Linked DNA regions of Homo sapiens. The gene in region 1 interacts genetically with each later gene. Each region holds a gene or a part of one and is shown on either strand. Other genes may lie near its edges.

What was found.
Region 2: changes in TBL1XR1 (region 1) and SEC31A together harm fitness more than expected from each alone (negative genetic interaction), as found in Homo sapiens cells (one large-scale study listed by BioGRID).
Region 3: changes in TBL1XR1 (region 1) and RAB1A together harm fitness more than expected from each alone (negative genetic interaction), as found in Homo sapiens cells (one large-scale study listed by BioGRID).
Region 4: changes in TBL1XR1 (region 1) and TRAPPC12 together harm fitness more than expected from each alone (negative genetic interaction), as found in Homo sapiens cells (one large-scale study listed by BioGRID).
Region 5: changes in TBL1XR1 (region 1) and HNRNPD together harm fitness less than expected from each alone (positive genetic interaction), as found in Homo sapiens cells (one large-scale study listed by BioGRID).
Region 6: changes in TBL1XR1 (region 1) and RAB5C together harm fitness more than expected from each alone (negative genetic interaction), as found in Homo sapiens cells (one large-scale study listed by BioGRID).
Region 7: changes in TBL1XR1 (region 1) and SLC39A9 together harm fitness more than expected from each alone (negative genetic interaction), as found in Homo sapiens cells (one large-scale study listed by BioGRID).

The regions. Positions count from the first base shown.
Region 1 is NC_000003.12:177,022,983-177,026,482, forward strand, and holds part of TBL1XR1 (F-box-like/WD repeat-containing protein TBL1XR1), read right to left. Parts: intron 3,493-3,500; coding exon 3,391-3,492; intron 2,543-3,390; coding exon 2,516-2,542; 3' UTR 1-2,515. UniProt on the Homo sapiens protein: F-box-like protein involved in the recruitment of the ubiquitin/19S proteasome complex to nuclear receptor-regulated transcription units. Plays an essential role in transcription activation mediated by nuclear receptors.
Region 2 is NC_000004.12:82,881,154-82,884,653, reverse strand, and holds part of SEC31A (protein transport protein Sec31A), read left to right. Parts: intron 1-2,713; 5' UTR 2,714-2,717; coding exon 2,718-2,796; intron 2,797-3,500. UniProt on the Homo sapiens protein: Component of the coat protein complex II (COPII) which promotes the formation of transport vesicles from the endoplasmic reticulum (ER).
Region 3 is NC_000002.12:65,123,607-65,127,106, forward strand, and holds part of RAB1A (ras-related protein Rab-1A), read right to left. Parts: intron 1-3,500. UniProt on the Homo sapiens protein: The small GTPases Rab are key regulators of intracellular membrane trafficking, from the formation of transport vesicles to their fusion with membranes.
Region 4 is NC_000002.12:3,382,694-3,386,193, reverse strand, and holds part of TRAPPC12 (trafficking protein particle complex subunit 12), read right to left. Parts: intron 1-3,500. UniProt on the Homo sapiens protein: Component of the TRAPP complex, which is involved in endoplasmic reticulum to Golgi apparatus trafficking at a very early stage.
Region 5 is NC_000004.12:82,360,492-82,363,991, forward strand, and holds part of HNRNPD (heterogeneous nuclear ribonucleoprotein D0), read right to left. Parts: intron 1-3,500. UniProt on the Homo sapiens protein: Binds with high affinity to RNA molecules that contain AU-rich elements (AREs) found within the 3'-UTR of many proto-oncogenes and cytokine mRNAs.
Region 6 is NC_000017.11:42,144,990-42,148,489, forward strand, and holds part of RAB5C (ras-related protein Rab-5C), read right to left. Parts: intron 1-3,500. UniProt on the Homo sapiens protein: The small GTPases Rab are key regulators of intracellular membrane trafficking, from the formation of transport vesicles to their fusion with membranes.
Region 7 is NC_000014.9:69,440,192-69,443,691, reverse strand, and holds part of SLC39A9 (zinc transporter ZIP9), read right to left. Parts: intron 1,861-3,500; exon of another isoform or gene 1,720-1,860; intron 1,624-1,719; coding exon 1,426-1,623; intron 1-1,425. UniProt on the Homo sapiens protein: Transports zinc ions across cell and organelle membranes into the cytoplasm and regulates intracellular zinc homeostasis. Participates in the zinc ions efflux out of the secretory compartments.

The DNA.
Region 1 (3,500 bases):
TTGTGGCTATTATGCTTAAGTAAAATAGCTAAAGAAAAAAAAGAAAAAAAAAACAGAAAAGATGACAATATCATAAAAATGTAGCTGTCTATTTTGGCAGCTATATTGCAGAATTTCTTGACTATCTTTTAATCAGCTGGGAAAAAGTCAATAACTGTATGCAAATGAATAAACTGTCCATATCAAAATACAAAAGTACTATCAATAATCACCTCTGACTTTCAGATTTAAATTCAGTGCAATTGACAAATGCATCACTAAAGGAAAATGCAGCTTAAAAGATACTCAAAACATTTGTGTCTATTCCTGGGAGCACATTTTAAAATTATTGCACAGATTTTTTTAATTTTTATTTATTTTTTTTAAACAATAACAGAGGTCAACCACAGATGTGGACCTCCAGCAATAAAAGCAGGAATTCAAGTGCCAGATACTCAGCATATTAGGTTTCCTACGTAAGTCACAGGGTAATATGTTCTAAATATCTCTAATGTGATCCAAAACCCTAAAAAGAGCTGGCACAAAACCATCGTGAATGACTGCCTCTCTTGATGTAAATTTTTAAAAATATTATTACAGTATCATAGTCCCCACTAACAACAACTGGGGTACATATAACAATGTATTGTGAAATTAAGTGTATTTATTCTCTTTACCAATAGCAAATGCTACCCTACCTTAGTAAAACCAAGACTTGCTTCAATCAATGCTGTTTTGTAAAAATAGCAAAGCAACGAATGCTGAAATCAATCAAAGCTGCATTACTTGGGTTAAATCAGTTTCTACTTAGAACACAGGTTAAAATTTTAGTACTAAAAGGCCTCAAAATAATTAGTGACAGAAATAGTGTTATTAATTTGCTAAGCTCAACAATAAGCAATTCCTTAATTAAAATCTTCGAGATATAAATTTGATGACTATTCTCTTCAGAAATGACATACCTGGATTATGTTAATCATGACAAGCCTTATTAGTCACACATATAAACATGGCCTCATGCAATCATTTGTCTGTATATGTTACTCTAAGTTGCATGAGCACAAGGTTTAATATCTATATCTTTAAGAAAATACTTGATATTATAAACAGAGTAAAAGACATGATATAGTAGTGATTACTAAAAAAAAAAAAATTAGCAGCTTAAATCTATCTATATTTGAAAAAACGTAGTCACAAGTACCACAAATGCAGAATCAGAGCAGCAGGAAGAAGGTTAGTGCAATTATACTTTCATTAAAAAAAATTCTGAATCACTGCTATTTAAAAACACCTTGAAGCAAGTCTTTTGTTTGAGATTGTTTTTTAAACTAAGGTAGCAAACATTTTGCCATGTAATGGCAGTGTTATATGCCGTTATCTTGCTTTGTATAAAGAAAACAACATGAGAGATTTTTAATACTGGAGTTTGGTTACATTACATATTTAAGCTTCTACACAGAATGATGGACACTTCGAGAAGCTAATCCTTATCCAGAAACATTTTAATCTCTTAAAAAACAAAGCAAAACAAACAAACAACAAAAAACCCAAAACTACGTTGCTCCTTTTCACAATAGTGCACATTTTTACCATAATTTAGTTATGGCTACAAAACATCAGAAGATTTTTTTTAATGTATCTTCTCTATGGTAATTAAAAAAAAAGTTGTGCCCTTCTAGTCTTTAATTGGCAGAAATATGTCCCAAAAAAGAAACTATTGCATTTAAGCCACATCACCAAAAAACAAAAAAGAAAAAAAAAAAAAAAAAGCAAAACAAAAAAACAAAACCAACAGAGCATAATACCCTTTTACTGATGTGTCTTACAGATTGACATGACCAAAGTCATAGGTTTTCATTTAATTTCCAATTCCCCCTTCCACAACATGCACCAACTGAATATATGCTCTGGGAGCCATAAAATGTACCAAACATCTACCTCTTCAAAAGAATGCATTAAAATATTTTAAAGAATTTTTTGTTTAAAAGGTGAAAAAAATATAAACAAGAAACTGATTCACTCCCTTACTTCATGCATCCATAATCTAAACCAAAAACGAAATTTTAAAGCAAGAACAAACTACTGCTGCAAGTTTTTGTAAGTCCATTTTCTCTGTACATACAAACTGCTCACTACTGAAGGGAAAAAAAGAATATAATCCATGGTGTCTGCTGATTCAAAGGGGAGAAACAAGGCTGTCATTTAGTATCCAAAAACTGGTACATGTATGTTCTGCTTTTATAATGTATATTTTTCTCTCTTCTGTTTTTCATATCCAAAACTTCTAAATGCTATTTTAGGGGCACAGCAGATTAGATTCCAGCACTTGGTGAACAGAATTCACAAGCTGTGACAAAACTCTGTCATCTTCAGGGTGCAATTTTGTTTATATACACTGTATGTATATATTTCTTTTAGATTTGGCTGTAGTGGACTGGCCATGGTTCAAGTGGGACTATAGCAGTACATGGGTCAGGGACAGTCATTTTGGCTATGTACACATTCATAGTCGGTCCATGGCTTCCAACTAGTAGCGCTATTTCCGAAGGTCTAATACACAAACCTGTAAGAAATTAAAATAATCAACCAGTGTATTCAGAATTTTATTGTACATTTTATGTTTAACTTTTCTATAGTACAATTTGAAATGTTTCTTAGTTCCAAGTTTATAAAATTGGTAAAGCATAATAATCATGGAAATGAGCACTTAACTGACAGAAATCAGACAGATCATTTAAGCAGATCAAGAGAACAACCATGAGCTCAAACTGTGGGGGAAGAACCACGGCTAGGATTTTTATACTCTCTGTTGATTAAAAAGGAGGGGGAAAATGCTCAAAACAGACCATTTCCTATCTATTGGACCCTAATGAAAGATATCACAGATTATATTCAGCTACAGCATCAGTAAATAGCTACCCTTTTCCCACCTTCTGGTGCTTCTACAGCTTTGGAAGCCATATTTGCATTGTTGTAAAGAGTTGGCTAACCTCATCCTGAAAATCTTTCAGTATCACACATTCCTCAACACAGGAACCAACTGCCTCTAGTTCTGCCTTCCCTGGGCCAAAAAAATTCTTCTGTGAAGAGGAGAAGGTAGAAATACACATTAAACATTTCAATCCTTCTCAGAATGTTCCTCTGGTATACCTAATTTCATAAATGAAGGTTCATATTAAAAATAACTGTCCATTTCTAGATTATAAGGTATTTGGTAAGGACAGCCTAAATTTTGTTTACATTATTTGAATCCAACGCACATGAAAAGTTTACAGCCTCAGGAAAAAAAAAAATCAGTATCATACCTTAAAATTTATTTTGAAAAAAACACTTTGGTATCACTAACAATAAGCTGCATTCTGATGTGAATACCCACCCACACCCTCTTTGGAAACACTTTACTATACTTACTGAACCATCTGATGCACTGGCTCCAACTTTGTCTCCTGCTGCATTCCAGCAAACTTCAAATATTCCACCTGTTCCCCTATAGCTGTGAACTAGAGCACCTGTCTAAAAGA
Region 2 (3,500 bases), on another chromosome or scaffold:
ACAGATACATGTTGTTATACATTTGTCAAAACCCATAGAATATACAACACCTAGAGTGAGCCCTCATATAAATTGTGGAGTTTCAGTGATAATGATGTGTTCATGTTAGTTTATGGATCGAAACAAATAGACCTTTATGATGTGCGATGTTGGTGGTGAGAAAGGTTATGTGGTTGGGAAATGTGTAGCAATTTTTTGTACTTTGTGGCTCAACTTTTCTAGGAACGTAAAACTCTAAAAGATAAAGCATATAGCTTTTTTTATTTTTAATCAAAATCCTATGAAAGGTGAAAAGAAATTTTTTTTTTGAAAAAAGCAAAGTCAAAAGATAGTCTATCAACTTAATAGAAAAATTGTCGAATGATGGCCGGGCGCAGTGGCTCACCCCTGTAATCCCAGCACTTTGGGAGGCTGAGGAAGGTGGATCACCTGAGGTCAGGAGTTCGAGGCCAGCCTGGCCAACATGGTGAAACCCCGTCTCTACTAAAAATACAAAAAAATTAGCCTGATGTGGTGGTGTGTGCCTGTAATCCCAGTTACTTGGGAGGCTGAGACACCAGAATCGCTTGAACCCGGAGGCAGACGTTGCAGTGAGCCGAGATCGCCCCACTGTGCTCCAGCCTGGGTGACAGAACGAAACTCCATCTCCAAAAAAAAAAAAAAAAGAATAGAAAAGAAAAATGGTCAAATAATACATGACTAGACAGAAGAGATGACAGAAAAGGAAATATGTTTACCCATAGTCATACAAAAAAAAGATGTTATACATCATTTATAGTATTACTATACAGAGCTAACATTTTTATTTTTCTCTTTTTTTTTTTTGAGTCATGGTCTCACTCTGTCGCCCAGGCTGGATTGCAGTGGCGCAATCACGGCTCACTGCAGCCTCAACTTCCCGGGCTCAAACAATCCTTCCTCCTCAACCTCCCGAGTAGCTGGGACTACAGGCGTGCACCACCATGCCCAGCTAATTTTTGTATTTTTTCTAGAGATGGGATTTCACCATGTTGTCCAAGCTGATCTTGAACTCCTGGGCTCAAGCAATCCACTTGCTTCGGCTCCTAAAGTGCTGGGCTTACAGGCCTGAGCCACTGCACCTGGCCTTTCATTTTTTAGTGTTGGTATGATCTAAAAGTGTGACAGTATGCTCTGATAAGGCTGTAGGGCAATAAGTAATCGTATATTACTGTTGGTGGTATGAAAAGGCACAATTGCCATAGAGGACAACTTGGTAATATTCATCAAAATTAAAATTGCATTAACCTTTTAACTTAGCAATTTTACTTCTGGAAATTTATAGCTGTCCCTTTTTAATGAAATAACGTGCAGATGACCATTTATTTCAGCACTTTTTTGTAAAAATAGCTAAAAACAGCTTAGGTGTTTGTTGGTATTAGACTAGGTAATTATGGTACATCTTATAGTGCAGTACTATGCCATTTCAATATATTTATGTAAAAATAACAAAGATCTTTAAAAAGTACATAATACTATACCGTTGTAATTTTTCCATCAAAGTAACTTTTTTTTTGAGACCGAGTCTCGCTCTGTTGCCCAGGCTGGAGTGCAGTGGCATGATCTCGGCTCAATGTAACCTTCACCACCTGGGTTCAAGTGATTCTTCTGCTTCAGCCTCCCAAATAGCTGGGATTACAGGCATGCACCACCACACCTGGCTAATTTTCTTGTATTTTTAATAGAGACGGGGTTTTGCCATGTTGGCGAGGCTGGTCTCGAACTCCTGGCCTCAAGTGATCCAACTGCCTCGTCCTCCCAAAGTGCTGCGATTGCAAGCATGAGCCACCATGCCTGACTCCATCAAAGTAACTTTAATGACAGAAAATACGTAAACAAGTGGTATATGGGATTATACCTTGAAGTGACCAGTTTTCTAATAATTTCTACTTTATCTTTAAAATCTGTGGGCTTACTATATTCTCTCTAATATGTTGTAACTTTGAATTAATTTTTTAAACTGCTCTTATCATTGAGTAATCCTACTCCAGGAAGTTGCACCTTATTTATTTTTTGGCTGCTCTTACCCGTAATGTTTTGTCATCCATCCTAGTTGGATAAACACATGTGTAGCAAAGTTAATTCTTCAGGTACTACCTTATTATTTTTGTGGGCTATTTTTCTAGACTGATTCAACTGAAGAACTATAATCTGTAAACAGAATAGCCCAGTATTTGTCTCAAAATGGTTTATCAAGTTTGTCTTTTTTTTTTTTTTTTTTTTTTTTTTTTTTTGAGATAGAGTCTTGCTCTCTCGCCCAGGTTGGCATGCAGTGGTGCAATCTCAACTCACTGCAAGCTCTGTCTTCCGGGTCATGCCATTCTCCTGCCTCAGCCTCCTGAGTAGCTGGGACTACAGGTGCCCGCCACCACGCCCGGCTAATTTTTTGTATTTTTAGTAGAGATGGGGTCTCACCATGTTAGCCAGGATGGTCTCAATCTCCTGACCTCGTGATCCGCCCGCCTTGGCCTCCCAAAGTGCTGGGATTACAGGCATGAGCCACCCGGCCTCAAGTTTGTCTTCTTTCTAATGAATATATCCAACAAATGACACCTAAACCGATTTGATTTATTTGCAGTTGGGCATTACTAATGTTGTAGTGGTTTGTTCAGTATGTTTCTATTTAAAATATCTGTGTTCTGTGTTAGACATTCAAGTCATTCAAGGCTGTTTCTGTATAAAATATTCCCTTTAGCAGGATGAAGTTAAAGGAAGTAGATCGTACAGCCATGCAGGCATGGAGCCCTGCCCAGAATCACCCCATTTACCTAGCAACAGGTAAGTTCAAAGGAGAGAAGATAGTATGAGTTACCTAATTTCTTCTCTTCTGCACCTAGCTTATTCAGTTTAAGCTTTATCTTCTCTAGAAAGCCTCTCTCTCCCTGGCAAGTTACTGACATTCTATCAGCCAAGTTTAGTGTTCTTCCTCTGTGTTCCCATAGCATTTTGATCATGATGTGTTACATCTAAAATATTTTCCTTCACAGGAATTGTATTTTATCTTTATTCCTCCAGTATTAAGCACAATAGATGGCATGTAAAAAAAACAGTTAATATCAGTTTGAATGAATGAAGAGCAATTTTGATGTTAGCATTTTTATATAAAAAGAAATAGTTATATCATATATGTCTATAAGCAGATATAGTAAATCACGGGACTTTTTTTTTTTTGAGATGGAGTCTTGCTCTTTCGCCCAGCCTGGAATGCAGTGGCGTGATCTCTGCTCACTGCAAGCTCCACCTCCCTGGTTCCTTCCATTCTCCTGCCTCAGCCTCCCAAGTAGCTGGGACTACAGGCGTCCACCACCATGCCTGGCTAATTTTTTGTATTTTTAGTAGAGATGGGATTTCACCATGTTAGCCAGGATGGTCTTGATCTCCTGACCTCATGATCCACCCATCTCGGCCTCCCAAAGTGCTGGGATTACAGGCATGAGCCACCGTGCCCAGCCCCCATCACGGGACCATTTTTACAGAGATTT
Region 3 (3,500 bases), on another chromosome or scaffold:
CACGAGGTCAGGAGTTTGAGGCCAGCCTGGCCAACATAGTGAAACCCTGTCTCTACTAAAACTACAAAAATTAGCCGGGTGTGGTGGCACACACCTGTACTCCCAGCTACTTGAGAGGCTGAGGTGGAAGAATCACTTAAACCTGGAAGGCGGAGGTTGCAGTGAGCCGAGATCACGCCAACGCACTCCAGTGACAAAGTGAGACTCTGTCTCAAAAAGAAAAAAAAAGAAGCCAAGTAGAGAACTGGCAAGGAAGATTTGATTTTGAAGCACTTCCATCTTTAAGACAACGTTAAAAAAAAAAACTAAACTAAAATATTTGATGGTTAAAAACTGTCTAACATCCCTCATTTTAACTTAATTTGATTAAAGGGGGAAATTTTTATTTTTTATTTTTTTGAGACAGAATCTCACTCTGTCACCCAGGCTGGAGTGCAGTGGCCAATCTTGGCTCACGGCAACCTCTTTTTCCCAGATTCAAGCGATTCTCTTGTCTCAGCCTCCTCAGTAGCTTGGGACTACAAGCGCACACCACCACGCCTAGCTAATTTGGTGTTTTTAGTAGAGGCAGGGTTTCACCACATTGGCCAGGCCGGTCTAGAACTGACCTCAAGTGATCTGCCTGCCTCGGCCTCCCAAACTGCTATTACAGGCGTGAGACACCTCGCCCAGCCAAAAGCGGGAAATTTTTTAATGCAAAATTTCAGGCTGGACATGGTGGCCCACCCAGTGCTTTGGAAGGATCGCTTGAGGCCAGGAGTTTGAGACCAGCCTGCACAACATAGGAGGCACAGTCGCTACAAAAAAATTTTTAATGTGAAATTTCAGTTGTTATCTTCATTTTATTTTACTTTATTTTGAGACAGAGTCTTGCTCTGTCGCCCAGGCTGGAGTGCAGTGGCGCAATCTCAGCTCACTGCAATGCCCACCTCCAGGGTTCAAGAGATTCTCCCGCCTCAGCTTCCCAAGCAGCTGGGACTACACGCAGGCACGACCACACCCAATTAATTTTTCTATGCTTAGTAGAGACAGGGTTTTGCCATGTTGGCCAGGCTGGTCTCAAACTCCTGACCTCAGGTGATCTACCGCCTGGGCCTCCCAAAGTGCTGTGATTATAGGCATGAGCCACTGTGCCAGGCCTCAGTTCTTATCTTTAAATGATCCTACAAGATTATCTCATCATCTCATTCACACAAAATTCTCAATATATATATTTTAAAGGTTTTATACAACTACTGAATACTTAAATTACCGGAAGAATTACAGATGGTGATATTCTATAGACATTTAAAAAATCATATTCTGGACAATGAGAATACTAGTTATCTTTCTTCTTTAAACTTTTCTGAGTTTTTCAAACCACCACCAAAAGTCACAAAGACAACCTGCTTTCACTTTCAAACACTTAAGTTTTGTTAAAAATTATTTGAAACACAATGCAAGCAAAAAAAAAAAAAAAGGTCAAATGTTTCTTGAGTATAACATGAAAGAAGAGCAAAGTCTGAAAGACTGATAACATTTTCAGAGATTCTGGAGCCATGATATACTTAAGGGGATGGGGGCTAAAAATAAGGTAAATACTTTAAACTTTTTCTGCATTAAAGAATTATAGTTGATCTAAGTAGACTACTATATTTCTTCCTACTATAGTTAGCTGGTATACTGAAGACAGGTAGACATGCTTTATTCTTAACACATTCCTTAAAGATGAACCAATCAAAATTATTTTCTTGACACTAAAAAAATCCACTGGAAGCCAGTGGATTATGAAAAATGTTATGAGAATAATCACGAGAATAATGTTAAGTATTTCTTTCTTTTTTTTTTTTTTTTTTTGAGGAGTCTCACTCTGTCCCTCAGGCTGGAGTGCAGTGGCATGATCTGGACTCACTGCAGCCTCCGCCTCCCAGGTTCAAGTGACTCTCCTGCCTCAGGTTCCTGAGTAGCTGGAATTACAGGCGTGCACCACCACACCCAGCTAATTTTTGTATTTTTAGTAGAGGCAGTGTCTCATCATGTTGGCCAGGCTGGTCATGACCTCAAATGATCCGCCCACCTCGGCCTCCCAAAGTGCTGAGATTACAGGCGTGAGCCACTGCGCCTGGCCATGTTAAGCATTTCTTAATGTGCTGAAATAATCACTGCCTGCTTCAAAACGTAGCTCAAAAAAAATCCACATTTTTCTTCAGATCCTCAAAAAAAAGCTTTAACCCTTTCTATCTACTTTTTTAACTGTTCAGATTACACTTTCAATTGCCTTTTTTTTTTTTTTTTTTTTTTTTTTGAGACAAGTCTTGCTCTGTTGCCCAGGCTGGAGTGCAATGGTGTGATCTCGGCTCACTGCAACCTCCACCTCCGAGGTTCAAGAGATTGTCCTGCCTCAGCCTCCCGAGTAGCTGGGATTACAGGCGCCAGCCAACACACCCAGATAATTTTCTGTATTAGTAGAGATAGGGTTTTGCCATATTGGCCAGGCTGGTCTTGAACTCCTGACCTTAGGTGATCCACCTGCTTCAGCCTGATCAACATTAGAGATGGCTGGGTACTCTATACAAAAATTAGCTGGTTATGGTGGCAAATGCCTGTAATCCCAGCTACTCAGGAGACCAAGGCAGGAAAATCGCTTGAACCCAGGAGGCAGAGATTGCAGTGAGCCAAGATCGCGCCACTGCACTCCAGCCTGGGTGACAGAGTGAGACTCCATCTCGAAAAAAAGAAAAAGAAAAGAAAACAAAAACAAAAAAAAACACAAACAGCCAGGCACAGTGGCTCACGCCTGTAATCCCAACACTTTGGGAGGCCAAGGCCCGGGCGACAGAGCAAGATTCCGTCTCAAAAAAAAAACAAAACAAACAAAAAAAGTAATACAGCTACCAACTCTTATGTAAACCAATATAAATCTAAAAATTCTGTTGCTTCAGAATCTTTTTTCTCAAGATCCCATTTTCACTACCAAATTTAGCAGAACCCATTAACAAAGATTATAAATTTCTAAAAGAAACAATATAAATTGGTAATGATAAACCAAAGTAACTTAAGGAACATCTGGAGTACATTTGTAAACATTAGCTAATATACCATTGTTAGTTATTAAGATAACATACTGGAAGCAGGAAAAGCATCCACCCATTAAAGTTTTAATTGAAGAGAAAGCAAGACTTTGGAGTTTGGAACAAGATGTTAAAAACGAATGAGCTTGTATTTGCGTGATAAAACACTAAAGAACTTTTCTTTCTTTCCTTTATTTTCCAAATTTTCTCTAATTACTTTTATAAAGATAACAAGCTTCATTAAAACAAAAAGAAACTGCTTAAGTCAGATTACTAAAAATCTGATTGCTCACTGCCCTTGTGACCTCCCCTAATAAAATATCCCTCACTTCCTCTCACCCTAAGTAATTTTCACTAACACTTTTGCAAAGGTTTTCTCAAATTCCTGTATTATTTTACTAAACAGTCTAGAATACAAATATAGTAGGCCAGATACCCATGTATTTGATC
Region 4 (3,500 bases), on another chromosome or scaffold:
TAGATAAGACTACCCTTTTCTCACTGTCAACACTTCCATCATAGTATTCCCAATGAGTCAGCCTTCCCAAAACATTATTTTAAAGTACATAATCCAAGTTATACATTTTGAAGAAGTTTCCGGTTCAGCCTGGTCAGCTACTAATTCCCTTATACATTCATCCAATAATTGTTAAGTATAAATGAATAAAAAATCCAATGAAAAGGAGTAAAACGTTTTTTTTCCTGCCATGTTTCACCGGGAGCCCGAAGAACAAATTGCCCTAGAACCCCAAAGGGGGAGCCCCCTGTGCATGGTAAGGCTGCTCCTTCGGGTCCTTCCTGTGCAGGGATAGAGGCCGGGCACAAGGAGCAAACAGGCAGCATGAGGCAGTGCCCCCTCTGAAGTCTCCCAGCAGGACTTGAAGGCACTAGCGTGGTCTGCGTATTTTATTTTAGAAATAAGAATTGATTTCGATATAAGCTAATGATGAGAGAAAGGGATCTTCCCTCCGTCTCATCTACCCTCAGCCCTAACAAAATTCTAGGTTCTAAAGCTAATTCTGATTCAATCTCACAGATTTTAAAAGTTTTATTGCCTTTGTGAAGAAACTTTTTAAAGAAACAATTCTTACTATTGTGAAGATGAAGCTGCTTTAAACCTGTAAGATTTAGGGAAATCTGTTTATCAGAGATATAATAACAAAAAACATCGCCTAGAAAAACCACCAAAATAATAAAAATTAAGGTAAAATGCTTCTAAATTATAAAGCTTAAAAACTTTATAAATTGTAAATTAAGGAGAACTGATAAAATGGGAATGTCCAAAATTTTCATTAATACCTGCAAACCACTTTTGAGAAGAGAAGAAAATAAAAAAATAAATTTTATTCTTAAGTAAATACCAAAGTAATAAAAAGCCCTAATAATTTAGGGCAAGGATGATCACTTTTGCTTTCACACAAATAAAATCTAGATGCAGGAAAATGCTTGTAAGTAAGGATCTGAGGGTTTCTTCTCTAGAAAATCAAGAGGAATGCTCAAATAAAAATGATATAAAACGTGATTTAGATGATGCTTTTATGAATGGGAAGACATACATATATTATAAAGCTACATCTATATAAATTATATACATAAGATTTTGTGAGAATGGACATATAATTTGTAGCAAAATAGCTTCTTCACTTCAAGGGTTTCCTTACTCTAATCTTATTCCAATGTAAGGTTCAAATGCAAAGCAGACACTAGTAATAACCATGTATATATGACGAGATAGTTCTATAACCATAAAAAAAGTATAACCAGTAGTTAAGTCTTCCTACAAAGAAAATATAGGGTCCAGAGGGTTTACCAGTGAATTCTACCAAAGATTCCGTACAGATAATTCCTACAGTACAAAAATTCTTGCAGAGAAGAAAAAAGACACATGACCCAATTCACTTTATAAGGCTAATATAACCTTGAGACCAAAATTTGACAAGGCCATACTAAAAGGGAAGCTATCATCTCACTCATGAACACACATGCAAAAATCTTGAAATATTAGCTAACTGAATCAGCAATGTATTTATTTTCTACCAAACTCAGGTAATCCCAGAAATGTACTGTTGGTTTAATGCGATAGATTAAATAAAAGTACATGACTATCTCAATAGATGCACAAGAAAGTATCTAATAAAATTCAGCATCTGCTCAAGATAAAACCTGTCAGCAAACTAGCAACAGAAAGTAACTTCCTTAATGCAATCAAAGGTATCTACCAAAAACCTAAAGGAAACCTCAAATTAACAGTGAAACGTTTAAAGCATTCTCTTTAAAAGTAGAAAAAAGATAAAGATGTCCTCTTCAACATTTTTATGCTGCCTAATACTGGAGTCCTCGGGCAGGATTAAGGCAAGAAAAATAACTAAAAGCTACAATAAAAACTGAAAAGAAAAAAATACAAACCTTCATTCTTCGTGTATGATTATTTATGTAGAATACATCAAAAATCTATGGTATAAAGACTGAAATATTGGGCCAGGCACGGTGGTTCAGGCCTGTAATCCTAGCAATTTGGGAGGCCGAGGAGGGTGGATCACCTGAGGTCAGAAGTTCAAGACCAGCCTGGTCAACATGGTGAAACACTGTCTCTACTAAATATACAAAAATTAGCCAGGTGTGGTGGAGGGCGCCTGTAATCCCAGCTACTTGGGATACTGAGGCAGGAAAATCACTTGAACCCAGGAGGCGGAGGTTGCAGTGAGCCGAGATCGCACCACTGTGCTCCAGCCTGGGCAACAGCAGCGAAACTTCATCTCAAAAAAAAAAAAAAAAAAAAAAAAAAAAAAAAAAAAAAAAACAAGACTGAACTATCACAAGGGAATATGTAGCACACATCAAAGGAAGAGACGATTTTCCTTGAGTGATGTGTAGACAAATCATGCAGCTGGGAAAAAATAAACTTGGAATCTTGTCTCACCACAGACACAGTATCAATCTCAGGGACGTTAAAAACTTAACTGTGAAGGCCGGGTGCGGTGGCTCACGCCTGTAATCCCAGCACTTTCGGAGGCCGGGGCGGGCGTATCACGAGGTCAGGAGTTCAAGATGAGCCTGGCCGACATGGTAAAACCCCGTCTCTACTAAAAATACAAAAATTAGCCAGGTGTGGTGGCGGGCACCTGTAATCCCAGCTACTCTGCTACTCGGGAGGCTGAGGCAGGAGAATCGCTTGAACCCAGGAGGCAGAGGTTGTAGTGAGCCAAGATTGAGGCACGACATTCCAGCCTGGGTGACAGAGAAAGACTCCGTCTCGGGCGGGGCGGGGGTGGGGGATCAAAAATTAACTGTGAAAGGCAAAACTTCAAAACTTTCAGAAGAAAATATAAGAGAATATATTTTCAGAGTAGGCAAAGCCTCTTAAACTAGGCATAATCAGTACAAACCATAAAGGGAAAATGGATACATCTGCTATATTAAAATGGAAAGTTCTATCATTAAAAACCTAAAAAAAGTGAAACAAACAAATGTAACTGAGAAAGGATTAACACGAAGAATACATAAAGAATCCCTACAAATTAATAAAAGCACACTAAATGATCCATTAGAAAAATAAGCAACAGAGCTGAAAGAGGTATACCTTTGAACATCCATGTTGAGAAACCACTTGGTATTATCTAGTAAAGTTTAAAAAGCACATTATCTTATCACTTTGATAACTATACATCTTGATTTTTCCCAGAACAATTCAATTTTTCACCCATGGTTTAAGTTATTTCTATTATTTTATTAGTATTATTATTTTATGAGACATAGTCTGGCTCTGTCACCCTGGCGGGAGTGCAATGGGACGATGATGGCTTACTGCAGCCTCGATCTTCTGGGCTCAAGCCCATCCTCCTGCCTCAGCCTCTGGAGTAGCTGGGACTACAGGTGTGCACCACCACACTCAGCTATTTTTGTATTTTTTGTAGAGATGGGGACTCAATATGTTGGCCAGGCTGGTCTCAAACTTCTGAGCTCAAGTGATCCTCCTGC
Region 5 (3,500 bases), on another chromosome or scaffold:
AAAAAGCTATCCTATACCTAACCTTCTTTCTACCCTTTAAAAAGACAGGACTGGAGGTTTTTAATTTTAAGGGTAAACTGTCAGAATTTGTTACATAATGGCTAAAAATGTCACCATGGGAATCAAATCAGACTTGCTCAACATTTTCTCTTCTTTTTAACTGGGGAAGGGTCATGGGTGGGGACTGGGATGTGACACTAACTCAGCTCTATAAAGAAATTAAAGGCCTTTCATTAGGAAACATCTCCATCTTGTGGGCTTTTAAGATACTGCCACTAAGGCCCATTCTTGGAATAAAAGGCCAATTAACTGTCCCTTGAATTAGGGTCTTTCTTCACTTCCTCCAAGATACCTGATTAACTGAGGTGTTACTGATCTTACTATCCTACCACAGTCTTGTTTTACTTCTAGTGACAAAGCAAACTTTCAGTGCAGAGTAAGTCTTAGGTATATACTGCGCTTCCCACTTCAGGTTAGCTTTTCAACTTACATGTATTCTAGAGCTGGGCCATTTATATGCTTAATGTTCAGGACTTCCTCAAAGTTTCCAGGCTTGAAGTAGCATTTATAAAACAACTTTGGCATTTTATAATCAAATGAACAAAAATACCCATAATGTTTTGTGTATTTGAAATGTTTACTTCTTGCCAATTTCATGGAAGAAATTTGAGTTATTTTCTCAATATACATTTTCTTTAATTTGAATAGTGTGTACCTTCTAATATACAATCTTTATTTACATAATTTGCTATAAACACCTTATTTTTAACTTACAGGTCCAGAATACTTCCTTCACAGACAGAAGTTATTTACCAACATTCACCCTGTAAAGGTGAGTACACTATATTTTTAATGAGAAAGAGAACTGACTATAAAGCAATGACCTCTTGCTAAGATGACCATAAGTTCCACAACAGAAATAACTTCAATTAAGTTGAGATTTAACTATTAAATTACCCTTTCCATGATTATTACAGAAATTTCTCAATAATAACTAACAAACTTTGAAAGTATTTCAGCCTGAACACAACAGTTCTAACAAAAACATTTTTTAAGCTGTTGAAAGGCAAGAAAATTCTCTGTCTGGTCTATTCAGATATGGAGACAGAACTAGTTTTGATTTTATTTAACCAAAAAGCAATGTTTATATTGGGAAAATACCCTTAATTTAAAATTATTAAGAAACAGAAAACAATTACAAAGAAATAAATTAAAACACCAAGAATGAGGTATGTGGTATTATTCTGAAGCCCCAAATGTTTTTCAGACAAGAAGCAGATTTTCTTAAATATCACCTAAGCATATCATCAGCTGGCCCAGCAAAGTGCTCTCCAAACGTACTCCCCACCTTTAGTATGGTAGTTGTTTAATATGCCTACCTTAGAGCTACAAGGGTTCACTGAAGATGCTATCCCTCCTAAACTAATAATCAAATATCAATTATCCAGAATATTAAAAACTTCAGCTATCCAGCACTTTTGGAGAATAAGGAGCCAAGTATTATTCCACCTCCCTTAAAGCACCGCCTGCCCTCTCTAATCTTTCCCCAATTGTTTTTAACCTTCAATCATTTGAAATGAGATTTTTTTCTAACAGCATCACACTTTTCTGCCTTCTTATACTTCAAATACAGTAATCATAATTTAACACTATGGCTCAGACATCACTATTATGCTGATTTAGAATATCCACAGGGTCTTCTAAAATTAGCTATTAATACACCAAGTCCATCTCATTTCTTCACAAGTTCTACTTTTCATTTTTGCCAGATCACCAGTTGCTGTTCTAAAAAGTCTCCCTTCCGTTTTGCAGAGTAAGTAGCCAGCTGTCAAACTTTTCAAATTCTGTGTAAAGTAGAAGTCTCTAAGCAAGCACCTAAGTGGCTCGTCTTTGAGACAAACGTATTAATATTTTGGCAGCCCAAGAACACTCTGGCTTTTTCTTCTGTTCTAATCAAAAAAGGTTGTTGTTCTCAGGGTATGCTTAGGCTTTAAAAAAAAAAAAATGGTTGCTGACCAAATAGGTGAATATGCTACAATGAACACAAACTGGACCAATTCTATTCCATCTTTACTAAATGGAACATATTAATTCCATTCCATCTTTTTCTGTTTTTGGTTGCTTAGTTTTTGAGACAGTCTCACTCTGTCGCCCAAGCTGGAGCGCAGTGGCACAATCTCAGCTCACTGCAACCTCTGCCTCCCAGGTTCAAGTGATTCTCATTCCTCAGCCTCCGTGGGAGGGATTACAGGCTGCACCACCACGCCTGACTTGATTTTTGCATTTTTAGTAGAGACGGGGTTTCCCCTCGTTGGCCAGGCTGGTCTTGAACTCCTGGCCTCAAGTGATCCGCCCGCTCCAGCCTCCCAAACTGCTGGGATTACAGGCGGAAGCTACCATACCCAGCCCCAAACTCTAACTTTATAGTACAATGGGGAAAAGTCTGCTTATCTTAATTATGGATAAATGGGCACTTAGTCTCTACAATGTTGGCATACATGCTCTCCCTCAAACTGATGGCATAATGATTTTATATATATATGTGTGTGTGTGTGTGTATATATATATATATATACATTTACAAATACTTATTTTTTTCTTTTTAAACAGAGTCTCACTCTGTCGCCCGGGCTGGAGTGCAATGGCATGATCTAGGCTCACTGCAACCTCCACCTCCCGGGTTCAAGCAATTCTCCTGCCTCAGCCTCCTGAGTAGCTGGGATAACAGGTGCATGCCACCATGCCAGGCTAATTTTTTTTTGCACTTTTAGTAGAGATGGGGTTTCACCATATTGGTCAGGCTGGTCTCGAACTCCTGACCTCGTGATCCACCTGCCTCGGCCTCCCAAATTAGAGGCGCGAGCCACCATGCCCGGCTAAATTATCTACATATTTTCTATGACTGTATCTTGCTTTTAAAGCACATGTACTGTCTGTCCAGATTACCTCTGCTGCCTTGAATACAAAGCATTTCATATTGCTGTCACTCCTGCGTAGTGCAAACACTTTCCAATGAAGTAGACAGAACTTCAGAAAATACCCTAAGGAGCCATGTTAAAAACGACCAAGACTTGTTCAACTAGCAACAAAGATGGCCCCTAACGCTGCAATAAGTTTAAACTTTGATCCTTAGTTCTAAGTGAATCAATCCCAATTAAAATGCAGGACTTCATCTACTGTATTTTATTAACATAGTTGAGTATCTTAATCCTAGCTGTGAACTAAATATTCAGCACCCCAAGGCTGAATATGGTATTCAGTTTAAAACACCTACTCCACAACAGAAGTCTCCTTGCTTTCACATTGGCTTCCACCAAATTGTAAAATTAAATGACAAGCATAAAGTTATACAACTCAGCATAGATAACTATCCAAGTGATATGCAGTATCATTCAGGAATTTAGGCTCCTTTGTGGGACATTTTATCATCTTTTAAAGCAAGTTAAGTTTAGAGGCAATAAAGACAAAATGCCGGGGTTTAAACCCTACTGCTGCCTTTT
Region 6 (3,500 bases), on another chromosome or scaffold:
TCTCTACTAAAAAAAATACAAAAAAATTAGCCGGGTGTGGTGGCGCGCGCCTATAGGCCTGTAGTCCCAGCTACTCGGGAGACTGAGGCAGGAGAAAGGCGTGAACCCGGGAGGCGGAGCTTGCAGTGAGCCGAGATTGCGCCACTGCACTCCAGCCTGGGCGATGGAGTGAGACTCCATCTCAAAAAAAACAGAAAAAGAAAAAATAATTTAGTAACTCATGTAGCTACTCCGCCCTCAACAAGGGGAACATGAACATAAGTCCCTGTTCCTTAGGTGTGGGCTACACAGTGACTTTCTTCCAAAGGGTGCATGCAGCATGGAAAGGGGAAGGGGAGAACAACTTTACAGAGAAGCCTCACACACATCACCTCAGCCAAGTGATCATGGTTGACATCAGTCATGGAAAGGCTTGTGGATTGTATGTACCCTTGACATGATGTGATGAAAATAGCACTTTACCTCTCTGGTCCTCCTTCCCAAAACTTGGCACAGTCTACTTATGAAAAAAACACTGGACACAGCCAGGCGTGTTAGCTCACGCATGTAATCCCACCACTTTGGGAAGCTGAGGTGAGCAGATCGCTTGAGCTCAGGAGTTTGAGACCAGCCTGGACATCATGGTGAAACCTTGTCTCTACAAAAATTAGCCAGGCGTGGTGGTGCATTTCTGTAGTCCCAGCTACTTGGGAGGCTGAGGAGAATGGCTTGAGCCGAGATTGCACCACTGCACTCCAGCCTGGCTGACAGAGCAAGACTCTGTTAAAAAGAGAAAAATACTGGACAAATCCCAGTTGAGAAGAGATTCTCTTTATTTTTTATTATTTTTTTTGAGACGGAGTCTCATTCTGTCTCCAGCCCAGGCTGGAGCACAGTGACACGATGTTGGCTCACTGCAACCTCTGCCTCCTGGTTCAAGCGATTCTTGTGCCTCAGCCTCCTGAGTAGCTGAGATTACAGGTGCGTACCACCATGCCTGGCTAATTTTTGTATTTTTAATAGAGATGAGGCTTCACCATGTTAGCCAGGCTGGTCTCGAACTCCTGACTTCAAGTGATCCACCCACCTCGGCCTCCCAAAGTGCTGGGATTACAGGCGTGAGTCACCGCGCCTGGCCGAGATCCTCTTTAGATGCTTGCCCAGCACTCCTCAAAACTGTCAAGGTCATCAAAAACAATAAAAGTCTGAGAAACTGGCACAGCAAGAGGAGCCTAAAGAGACAATGAATATAGGTAACATGGGATCCTGGAACAGCAAAAGGACATCAGGTAAAAATCTAAGGAAATCTGAATAAAGGATGGACTTTAATGTAAAATACGTACTAACATAAGATGTTAATAACAGGGAAAACTATGTGTGAGGGATTGTGAGAAAACTCTGTACTATCTGCGTAACTTTTCTAAAAGTATTCTGAAAGAATAAGTTTATTAAGCCTCGGCAACATAGGGAGACCCCGTCTCTACAAAAAAATCAAAAATTGCCCAGGCACAGTGGCTCACACCTGTAATCCCAGCACTTTCAGAGGCCAAGGCAGGCAGACCACAAAGTCAAGAGATCAAGACCATCCTGGCCAACATGGCGAAACCCCGTCTCTACTAAAAATATAAAAATTAGCTGGGCATGGTGGCGTACGCCTGTAGTCCCAGCTACTCGGGAGGCTGAGGCAGGAGAATCACTTGAACCCAGGAGACGGAGGTTGCAGTGAGCCAAGATGGCATCACTGCACTCCAGCCTGGGAAACAGAGCAAGACTCCATTTCAAAAGAAAAAAAAAAAAGGAGGCCAAGGTAGGCGGATCACGAGGTCAGGAGATGGAGACCATCCTGGTTAACATGGTGAAACTCTGCCTCTACTAAAAGTACAAAAAATTAGCCAAGCGTGGTGGCAGGAGCCTGTAGTCCCAGCTACTCGAGAGGCTGAGGCAGGAGAATGGCATGAACCCGGGAGCTTGCAGTGAGCCGAGATCGTACCACTGCACTCCAGCCTGGGCGACAAGGCAAGACTTCGTCAAGAAAGAAAGAAAGAAAGACAGAAAGAAAGACAGAAAGACAGAAAGAAAGACAGAAAAAGAAAGAAAGAAAGAAAAAGAAAGAAAGAAAGAAAGAAAGAAGGAAAGACAGAAAGAAAGAAAGAAACAGAAAGAAAGAAAGAAAGAAAGAGAGAGAGAGAGAGAGAGAGAGAGAAAGAAAGAAAGACCAGCCTCAAGGTGAGCAGAGGATATCCAAGTACTGCAGGCACAGGACCAGGGAATGTTAAAGACCCCATCTGTGGAATACACATGTGAGGGCTGCTCATACCACTGGTCTGAACAGCTGCTGCCACCACTTTTTTAAGCCACCTTCACTCAGGAACGAGCCTTGTGCAGACATACAGAACAGTATCCACAGGCAGAGTCAAATTTGCTTCCACTGATCCTTGCTAAGTACTGGTCTGGGGTCGGTGCTGCCTCACCACACACAACTGCAGAAGCACGGTCGTTCTGTCCTGCCATCAGATACACACACGGCAGAAGCCAGTCAGCCGGACTGTGGCTAGTCAGGGCCGCGCCCTCATTGTCCCATTAAACCCTTCACCAGAAATGGAGATTTGGAGAGTCTTAACTTCTGGAAACTGAGTTTGTGACTTGCTTCCCATCATCCGTACTGTAACATTGATCCTATTGACCTGTTTGCTCTCCCATTTGTCTGTGAGCAACTTTCTGGGGGATGGACCAAAGATATGGCTCAAGCTGTGGGATCAGATGGATTTAAGTTTGAATCATAGGTTCACGACATCCAAAGTGTGTGAAGAAAGGAAGGGAAGTGTGTGTTAAAAGAAGTGGGCGAGGGCCAGGCATGGTGGCTTACACCTGTAATCCCAGCACTTTGGGAGGCCGAGGCGGGTGGATCACCTGAGGTTGGGAGTTCGAGACCAGCCTGACCAACATGGAGAAACCCCATCTCTAATAAAAATACAAAAAATTAGCCGGCCGTGGTGGCACATGCCTGTAATCCCTGCTACTTGGGAAGCTGAGGCAGGAGAATCTCTTTAACTCGGGAGGCGGAGGTTGTGGTGAGCTGAGATTGTGCCATTGCACTCTAGCCTGGGCAACAAGAGCAAAACTCTGTCTCAAAAACAAACAAAAAAAAAGAAGTGGGCAAGGCTGGGCACAGTGGCTCATGCCTGTAGTCCCAGCACTGGGAGGCTGAGGCAGGCAGATCATGAGGTCAGGAGTTTGAGATCAGCCTGGCCAACATGGTGAAATCCGTCTCTACTAAAAATACAAAACTAGATGGGCGTGGTGGTACACACCTGTAATCCCAGGTACTAGGGAGGCTGAAGCAGGAGAATCACTTGAACCCAGGAGGCGGAGGTTACAGTGAGCAAGATCGTACCATTGCACTCCAGCCTGGGTGAGAGGTCAAGACTCCATCTCAAAAAAAAAAAAAAAAAAAAAAAGAAGTGGGCAGGTGTTTGGTGTTTGCTTTAAGGGCAGGTTTGAATGTCTGCCCTCTCCTTTAA
Region 7 (3,500 bases), on another chromosome or scaffold:
TGCCATGTTGCCCAGGCTGGTCTCAAACTCCTGAACTCAAAAGGATCCGCCCATCTTGGCCTCCCAAAGTGCTAGGATTACAGGTGAGTCATGGTGACTGCCCCCTCATTTCCTTTAATTATGAATGCAGACAATAAACCACAAGTAATATCAGCACTATCTTTACTGCCAGTAGAAATCAGACTAATCAGGTTATTTTACAGTTGTAGATTATCTTTAAATTATCGCTTTCACTCATCACTACTTTAAATTAAGGACTTATAGAACTGCTGCCATACTGCATGATTACAGCTTTCCTGTCTGCAGATGCTCATGTGATGGAGCTGGGCAACTATCAAGTAGCTCTGCATCTAACAGTCACTCAGCCACCAAACAGTGATAGTCACAAGGCTCTCCCATTGGGGACCAAGATACTTATGCTGCTTTCCAATATTTCCTATCTGCAAAATTCCCTGCTGACATATCTGAAAAAATATGTCTACACATCAATCCCTGGAGAAGTTTTATAACTCTCAAATTTATTTCTATCACCACAGGATCGAAGTGTATCATGTATCAGAATCCTTTTTTATTAATATAAATCGTATGAAAAATGTTGACCTAGCCAAAGATAAATTCATTGATCTTAAAACAAAACAGTTACTATGACTGGAGTCAAATTTGAAAAGTCTTGGGGAATTCTAGTTGTCCTTTAGAGAAGCTTATGATTCCTTAAAAAGCAAGCTACAAATGTGTTTAGGTACATTTGTAAGAAAATACCTTTGTAAATCAAGATTTTCTACACCAATAACCATCAAAACAAAAACCCAAAATCAACTAGATGTTTAACTTGACATACATGTTGCCTTGTTACAGACTACCTCATAATTTAATGTTCTTAAGCCAAGCATATTATTATGTAATAGCTAGCATACTAATGTCCTAGAAAATAAAATTCAACTCTAACTTGTTTAGGATTTAAATGTATTATCTCATTATTTAATGCACTGATAAAGACATACATTACTATATCACAAATTTGTTCTGATGTTTTAGTAACTGTATTTCAACAAAGGTGGTTTTCTCTTTGATCTTATGTACTATGTTTTATACATTTAAAAACAATATTCCAATAAAAGGTCCACAGTCTTTAGACTGCCTAAGGGCTCCACAGCAAAAAACTAAGTTAAGAACTTCTGCCCTAGACTCTCAACCAAATGTGACAACTTTAAGACAAGCAAAGTAATAAACCAATAAACACTTCTTTGCGCCACATGCCACAACTCACTAGCTCTCCCCACTTAGTTAAATGTTCACTAGAACCCAAGGAAGACAAGAGTTTTAGCACTAAATATGGCCACTGATACAGACTGAAATATTTGATCGTTTGTAACTTTCTCAACTGCAAATGTATTGCACTGCCCAGAAAGCCTTGGAGCCACTCACCGTCAGTAGAATGCACATGGGAGTTACCAATCTGGTCCACCAGCAACATGAAAACGAAGCCCAGAACGAGGGAAACACCAATATAGGCATGCAGCTGTGTGTGGTCGTGGCTGTGCTCATGTTCATGGACAACTGATTTTTCTGCTGCTTTGTCTGATGCAATCACATTATGTGTTTCACTTGCTTGGTGGTGTTTTCCTAGAGCAGAATAAACCATAAAGAGAAAATATGTTTTTCCCCTAAAAACATTTTCATGTAGGAGTTTCCATTCTTTGTATTTCAAGCTCTACTTACTTTACTGTAAAGACATCCACTTTTTATATTGTAATCCAGCCAATCATTAACTCCTTCAACTTAAAGTTCATGATGAAAAAATTCCCAAATGTCTTCTGCCTTTGGCATGCAGACCTTCTGACTGCCTATTATTCTCAACACCTGGGAAGTGGAAGCAAATCACCATGCAAGAAAGCAATCATATTCCCAAAGGGACACCATCCCCAAATATTCCTTTATCTGAGAAATTCATGCCAATCTCACCAGAAAATACACTGTTTTTTTCTGATGAAAATAGGCAAATGAAGAGCAGTAACAATGAAAATAATTGCAATCAAATTCATCTAGTTTATACCTAGGCTGAGATAAAAATGTAAAATAAGGAACAAATTGAGTAGAAAATTTTTAGCTTTATAAAATATCAGCAGACAATTGCCAGCAAGAAACCAAAAGGGCAGAGCAGTTTAAGAGGCACATCCTTCAGTCTAAATTCAGTTCTAGAAATATGGAGGTTGGGAGACTCTGAACTGCAGTAAATGATACCTGGCCAGCTGATAATCCCAGTTTACAGTAACATATTTGTCATTTAAAACATAAATGCTTCAAAAGGCCAAAAAGCTTATCTTTGCTATATTTCATGAATAGAGAATAACATACTAGACATTTATCATTTATAATCAGATTAAGCAGTTTAAGCCTTCTTTAAAAATTGAGACAAGGTCTCATCTTTCACCCAGGCTGGAGTACAGCAGTGGTGCAATTATGGCTCACTGCACCCTCGACCTCCCGGGCTCAAGCAATCCTCCTACCTCAGCCTCCCAAGTAACTGGGAAACCACAGGCAAGTACCACCATAACCAGCTAATTTGAAAATTTTTTTGTAGAAATGTGGTCTCCCTATGTTGCCTAGGCTGGTCTTGAAATCTGGGGCTCAGGTGATCCTCCCACCTTGACCTCCCAAAGTGGTGGATTACAAGTATGAGCCACTGTGTCCAGCCTAGAGATCCTGTCTCTTAAAAACAAAACAAAACAGGCCAGGTGCAATGGCTCATGCCTGTAATCGTAGTACTTTGGGAGGCCAAGGGGGGCAGATCACGAGGCCAGGAGATCAAGGCCAACATGGTGAATCCCCGTCTCTACTAAAAATACAAAAACTAGCTGGGCACGGTGGCGCGTGCCTGTAATCCCAGCTACTCAGGAGGCTGAGGCAGGAGAATCGCTTGAACCAGGGAGTCGGAGGTTGCAGTGAGCCGAGATCACGCCACTGCCTTCCAGCCTGGCAACAGAGGGAGACTCTGTCTCAAAAAAACAAAACAAAACAAAACAGTTTCACAAAATAATATCCAACCTTACAACAGTTACAATGTACTCTTCTGTTTCTTTCTCTGTCTCTCTCTCTTTCTTTCTTTTTGAGACAGGTATGGCCCTTTCACCCAGACTAGACTACAGTGGTGCAATCTCAGCTTACAGTAACCTCCATTTCCTGGACTGAAGTCATCCTCCTACCTCAGTCCCCCAAGAATCTGGACTACAGATGTGAGCTACCAAGTCCTGCTAATTTTTATATTGTTTTTGTGGAGATGTAGTTTTGCCATGTTGCCCAGGCTGGTCTCAAACTCCTGAGCTCAAGTGATCCGCCCACCTTGACCTCCCAAAGTGCTGGGGTTACAGGCTTGAGCCACCGTGCCTGACACTATTCTTATGTTTTTGAGACAGAGTCTCACTCTGTACCCAGGTTGGAGTGCAGTGGCATGATATCGGCTCACTGCAACCCTGTGCCTCCAGGGTTCAAGTGGTTCTCAT